2 linked regions of the Homo sapiens genome follow. The protein of the gene in region 1 interacts with the protein of each later gene in a biochemical or structural test. Each region holds a gene or a part of one and is shown on either strand. Other genes may lie near its edges.

Evidence for each region. The genes of interacting proteins can lie anywhere in the genome.
Region 2: the proteins of H2AC25 (region 1) and DNTTIP2 form a complex in vitro, tested with the Homo sapiens proteins (one study listed by BioGRID).

What each region holds. Positions count from the first base shown.
Region 1 is NC_000001.11:228,456,749-228,459,766, forward strand, and holds H2AC25 (histone H2A type 3), read right to left. Parts: upstream 1,126-3,018; 5' UTR 1,070-1,125; coding exon 677-1,069; 3' UTR 616-676; downstream 1-615. Other genes in the region: H2BC26 (histone H2B type 3-B), read left to right, coding at 1,382-1,762. UniProt on the Homo sapiens protein: Core component of nucleosome. Nucleosomes wrap and compact DNA into chromatin, limiting DNA accessibility to the cellular machineries which require DNA as a template.
Region 2 is NC_000001.11:93,872,536-93,876,289, forward strand, and holds part of DNTTIP2 (deoxynucleotidyltransferase terminal-interacting protein 2), read right to left. Parts: coding exon 3,733-3,754; intron 3,249-3,732; coding exon 3,110-3,248; intron 680-3,109; coding exon 584-679; intron 1-583. UniProt on the Homo sapiens protein: Regulates the transcriptional activity of DNTT and ESR1. May function as a chromatin remodeling protein. Part of the small subunit (SSU) processome, first precursor of the small eukaryotic ribosomal subunit.

The DNA of each region.
Region 1 (3,018 bases):
TAAATTCCTTTAAATAATTATCCTATTCCAAATTAAGTCTTCTTAAAAGGTTTATACCTTTCAGCATCTACTAATCTGGTTCCTTTTAAGTACTGAAACTTTCCTCATGACCTTTAGAATTCCCAGCCAAATAAATTAAATCTTAACACTGGTGGAGCTCACATTGTTAAAACTTAGCAATTTAAATAGAAATCCATAGACTTACTCTTCAGAATTAAAGTGCAAACTACTTAGAGATCATAAATACTTTTAATATCAGATAAATCATTAAGAAATTGCATTCTGTACTTGATGACCACACGGGAACCTTGCTAGAGTCAAGAGAACTTGTCACTAGTAATTATGAAGACACCTTTACGGTGAGCGTTATTAAAACCCTACTAGAGGTTTTGGGTGGGACTCAAGAGCAAGGGGTGGCCACCTGTGGACGAGGGTTCCCTGTTGTTAACAGAACACGTTGCCCACCTCGCAAGTATGCAGCCCAATCAGTCCCCAGGGTCTCGGTTCCCGTTGCGCCCTTCCCCATGGCCACTGCGCTCATTCATGAGCCTAGGGTGATCAGGCCTCCGGCCTATAAAGAACTGCAGGATCAGTGCGGCTCTTTTCTCGAGATAGTAGGTGGCTCTGAAAAGAGCCTTTATGTCCATCAAAGGGGCCCCGGGGGCGGCGGGCGGCCTCACTTGCCCTTGGCCTTGTGGTGGCTCTCCGTCTTCTTGGGCAGCAGTACGGCCTGGATGTTGGGCAGGACGCCACCCTGCGCGATGGTCACGCGGCCCAGCAGCTTGTTGAGCTCCTCGTCGTTGCGGATGGCCAGCTGCAGGTGGCGCGGGATGATGCGCGTCTTCTTGTTGTCGCGCGCCGCGTTGCCGGCAAGCTCCAGGATCTCGGCAGTCAAGTACTCGAGCACCGCGGCCAGATAGACCGGGGCGCCGGCGCCCACGCGCTCCGAATAGTTGCCCTTGCGGAGCAACCGGTGCACGCGGCCCACGGGGAACTGCAGCCCCGCGCGCGACGAGCGCGACTTAGCCTTGGCGCGCGCCTTGCCACCCTGCTTACCACGACCGGACATTTCCGAGTCAAGGAAAAAAGACAACGGCAACCGAAAAGCGAGACTAAAAACAAGAGGGCAGTGAAGGCCAGCGAGCCCTTATGTATGGTACAGAGGTAGGCTAGACCGCGGCGTTCGATTGGATGGCTATGGTAGCCAATCAGAAAAAGAACCTGGCACTCCTAATTTGCGTATTCCTTTCCCAGCGATGACGTAGAACAACGTTTGATCCAATCAGAAGTGAGCAAATCCTGAGCCTTCATTTGAATACAAAACGTACAAATAGAGTTACTCCGAGCGCCGCGCGTTTCTGTTTGGAGAGACTCAGCCATCATGCCAGACCCGTCCAAATCGGCTCCTGCGCCCAAGAAGGGTTCTAAAAAGGCTGTCACCAAGGCACAGAAGAAGGACGGCAAGAAGCGCAAGCGCGGCCGCAAGGAGAGCTATTCTATCTACGTGTACAAGGTGCTGAAGCAGGTGCACCCCGACACCGGCATCTCGTCCAAGGCCATGGGCATCATGAACTCCTTCGTCAATGACATCTTCGAGCGCATCGCCAGCGAGGCCTCCCGCCTGGCACACTACAACAAGCGCTCCACCATCACGTCCCGCGAAGTGCAGACGGCCGTTCGCCTGCTGCTGCCCGGCGAGCTGGCCAAGCACGCCGTGTCCGAGGGCACCAAGGCTGTCACCAAGTACACCAGCTCCAAGTGAGGCGTTCCTCGGCGTCCTGAACCCAAAGGCTCTTTTCAGAGCCACCCACACGATCAAGAAAGGGTTTCGAACACGGTGAAGGGTTATGTAACCTAATGTGTCTCCATGCACCCTAGCGGTTGCCGGGTGCGGCCGAATCTGAGCCGTGTGTGTGTGTGTGTGTGTGTGTGTGTGCGCGCGCGCGCCGGCACAGAACGAGAAAAACTGCTCGTTACAGAAATCGGGGTAGAAACTGCTCAGGTGATGTAGCTCAGTAATGTTGGGAGGCGATCAAGGACCCCCTCTCCATCCCCTCCCTCCGCGCAGAGCTATTAACTCACGACGAGATTTCTTTTTTTTTTCTTTCTTTCTTTTTTTTTTTTTTTTTTTCTAGAAGAAGTCTCGCTCTGTCTCTAGGCTGGCGTGCAGTGGCGCAATCTGGGCTCACTGCAACCTCCGCCTCCTGGGTTCAAGCGATTCTCCTGCCTCAGCCTTACGAGTAGCTGGGATTACAGGCACGCCCCACCACGCCTGGCTAATTTTTTGTATTTTTAGTAGAGACGGGGTTTCACCATGTTGGCCAGGATAGTCTCGATCTTCTGACCTGGTGATCCATCCGCCTCTGCCTCCCAAAGTGCTGGGATTACAGGCGTGAACCACCGCACCTGGCCCCAAATGTCTTTTATAAGCAAGTGGTGCATTCCTGGATGTTGAGCGCTTGCGCCCGGTTCAGGACCGGGTCCAAATGAGGTTGGCGTGCGCCGTGCAGGTGAGGAGTGCGGGTCACCTCCCCCCAAAAGACCCTGTGCCAACCTCCCCAACCCTACCCGCCCCCCATGGGCGAGGCCAGACGTGGCGCAAGACCACGGGCTCTGAGGCCATGGGTGTTGTCACTTTCCCCTGGCGGTGGTGCCTGGCTCTGCATTTGCTTAAGACTTTTCCATCCCTGCCTGGACCAGACAGACATGTTTAGATTTAAGCAATGAACATTCCGGGAGGATATTTTCCTGGCAGGATACCGCGATGGCAGGATGTTTGATACCGAATCGAAGCACGGCGTCAAAGCAGCGTCCTGCGCGGGGGAGCCGGATGTAATAAGCGACCCCAGCTGCCGGTAACTTTAACCCTTATGGGAGTGGGGGTGGGGGAAGGGGTTAATTTAGGAGGAAAAGAATTCCCTTTTTCTGAGCAAATGTAGCTGCCTCCCTCTTTAGCCACATTATTTTCTGCGAGGCGTTAGCAACGCAGAATTCCTTTCCTACCCCCTCCAAATTCAC
Region 2 (3,754 bases), about 130 Mb from region 1:
TTGTCTAAAACAGACTATATGCAGTAAGAAAATGTATAAAAACACTTTCGTTTCTAGAGCTTATATGTAAACATTTTTATTCAGTCACCCAGGAGTCTCAGAATGCCACTCATACAAGGATCCAGAACCTTGTGTTATTTCTACAATAAAACAAAATACTATTCTTTAGAAAACTCCTACAAGTTATTTAATTTTGTTTCATTCATACAACAAGTATTTAGTTAGTGCCTACCATGTGCCAGGGTGCTCCATATTACAGTAACATTACTAGAATACCATCCTCAACTTTCCTTCAAGCTCTCTGGATAACTAGTCGAAATGGCAGATAGAAGTAATCTATATATATATATATTTTTTTAAAAAACCTCTACTTATAGATGCACTATTGTGGCTGCAAAGATGTGAAAATCTATACATAATGTGTTTATGGTACTATATTTTACAGCCCTTAGAAATCTGTAATTATTTTCTTTGGACTCATATATAGACCAACAGATACAGTTTAATTGTGCAGTTATGTTGTATAAGCTGAAAATATATAGCCAAACATATCTAAGCATTTTAATTAAGTCACTGTACTTACTCTGCGTTTTTTCTGAAGTTGATACTTTGATTCACTATATGGTGGAACACAGTGGTTTTTTTCAAAATCAGGTGTAATGACGGCTTTCTGCAGAAGCTATAAAAACATAAAATTGGTTTTAAAATAATGTCAGAATGTTATATAAGTTTTTCAACAGTTTAAACTTCTGTAAGTTTTAAAATTTTTAGTCAGCCTGGCAAAGTGGCTCACACCTATAATCCTAGTGCTTTGAGGAGGCCAAGGGAGGAGGATCACTTGAGGCCAGGAGTTTTAGACCACCTTGGTCAACATAGCAAGACCCTGACTGTAAAAAAAAAAAAAAAAAGAAAAGAAATTAGTTGGGCATGGTGGCACACACCTGTAGTCCCAGCTACTCAGGACGCTAAGGCAGAAGGATCACTTGAGGCCAGGAGCTTGAGGCTGCAGCAAGCTATGACTGTGCCACTCACTCCAGCCTGGGTGACAGAGTGAGACCCTGTCTCCCCCCAAACCCAGCTCCCTCCCAAAAAAAAAAAGAAAAAAGAAAAAAAAGGCCAGGCACGATGGCTCATGCCTATAATCCCAACTCTTTAGGAGGCCAAGGCAGGACAATCACTTGAGGCCAGGAGTTCAAGACTAGCCTGGGTAACATAAGAAAACGCCATTTCTCCAAAATAAATAAATAAATTTGTGCAGTCAAATCTGTTTATCTTTTCCTAAATGATTTCTGTACTTTTGTTACTTGACTAGGATGATTATATTCTCCTAAAACTCTGTGTGACTAAAGGAACCTCAGGTTAATTAGTATTTTTCTCAGTACAAGAACCAAGTAAGACTGCTCTGTAGCCCTCAAAATAGTTTACAGGAATATAGTACAAGCATTAATTTGGGACTGACATTTGAAATGATCAACTCAGAAATTAACAGTCAGGCACACAATTCAGGTTCAGGCCTAGATGTTTCTGTGTGGTATAGGTAGCCGTCTAGGCTTTCCTATCACTCATAAAAGGGGGCATGATATTTACTTAACAAATGATTAAGAGTTTGCTGTGAGTCAAGTACTGTAGTACATTCAAGGACAGTGGTTCTCAACTGGGAGCATCTGGCAATGTCTGGAGACATTTTTGGTGGTGGTGAGGATAAGGAAGAATGCTACTGACATCTAGTGGGCAAAAGATAGGGATGCTGTTAAACATCCTACTATGCACGGAACATCTCACAACAAAATTATGCAGCCCAAAACATCAGTAGTGCTGAGACTGAAAAACCCTGTTTTAGGAATATAAAGAAAAGATGGTAAGTTAATATATCACATGATCAACAATGAATCAGATCTATGCTAGATGTTATGGAAACAGAGGGGTTGTGAGAAGGACTGGAGGTAAAATATTCCCCAAGGGCAACGATCAATTATTTTGCACTTGCTTGGGGAAAAGCAGGGTAAGTTCAGGCAACTACAGTAGTCTTCAGTGGCAAGAATAGAGCAGATGACAGCTGGGTGGGGTAGAGAGGTACTTTGAAGGATTCAAGAGAATACTGTCACATCTGTGTGTGTGGTGTGTTTTTTGGGGCAGGGAGGAGAGATGTGGTCTAGCTATGTTGCCCAGGTTGGTCTCAAACTCCTGGGCTTAAACAATTCTCCTGCCTCAGCCTCCCAAAGTGCTGGGATTATAGATGTGAGCTACCTTGCCCAGCCGGATTTGTGTTTTTAGACAGAGAAATCTAGAAGTGTGGAGGATGGCTTGAAGAACAAGATGAAAACAAGATCAATAAGGAAGCCACTGGAGTAGTCCAGATGAGAAGCAAAGGCCTGCACTAGCTGGTGACAGTCGCTTGAAAAGGAGGAAGCAGAGAAATATCTTCCCCTAGAGGCTTGGTGACTGACTACAAAAGGAAAAGAGAGTTTGGTTTCATTAGCCAGAAAAAAGAATACAAGAAGAGGATTCCTGGTTCAGGCAGGGAAAGGGGAATTAGTGACGTCAAGTACCTGAGGACATCTAAATGAACAAATAGGTACTTGGATTTAAAGGTCTGAAAGTGACAGTGAGAAGCATCAAGGCTAGAAAATATAGATTTAGGAGAAAACAGTGCAAGGTGTTGGCTAAAGCTAAGGGTTTGGGTAAAGTTACCTTAACAGTAATTCCTTCTGAAATTATATGTAAAATGTCTATATGCACATGTGCATTTTTTTCCGGGTGGAAGAGGCAGGCAGGCATTCACAGCTTTCAGATTCTCAACAGTCTACACTAGTTAAGAACTTAAGAACTAAAAGTATAGCAAGAAAAGGGAAAAAAACAAAACCCCTGGGATCATAATTGGTGGGTGTAAGATGAGGAACACTGACCCTGTATTGATTTATTTTTAAAGCATTATCATTCATAGATAGGATTTTATTGTAAAAAGAAATGACTGTTTTAGAGAGAAGGAAAAAACTAACACATTAGGCCAATGTGGTTTCACTGTAGGAAAATTAAGTCTTTTACCAAGGACTAATTTCTAAAAGTGATTGGTTAGTTCTGTGAAAACCTAACAGCACAATTAACTTACCTCATTTTTCTTTTTCTCCTTGATCTGTGTTAGGGTTCTCTTGTTAGACTGTAGTTTATCTGCATTAAAATTAATATACAAACCACCCAACTGCTTGATACTCAGACCAGGGTCTATGCTGCTGCTTGTCAACTTCAGACTGAAAAAGAAATCATCACTTAAAGATCAAGTAATTAAATCAAAATGGAAACATATAAGATGGCATTTTAAAAAATCACTTATTCTTCTCTTCCCTTGTATTGTCCACAATAAAGAAAAAAAAGCATCTTATTTTTATGAGGAATTCCTGAAAAAAAACTCTAAATAAATATATTTTTCATCATTTTATTTTATTTTTTGAGACAGGGTCTCACTGTTGGCCCAGGATGGAGTGCAGTAGTGACCACTGCAGCCTTGAACTCTTGGGACTCAAGTGATCCTCCTACCTCAACCTCCCTGGGTGGCTGGGACTACAGGTGCACACCCAACACCTGGCTCCATAATGTCAAATGAATGAGCCATTCCATGAAGAACCCAAGGCAGTGATTTTCTCATTCCCCAGGCTAACATTTCATATTTTTATGGTAAATTAACCACTTGAAATACATGTATCAAAAACTTATAAAAATAAAGGAAAAACTTACAGTTTAGCCTTTGTGCTATTTA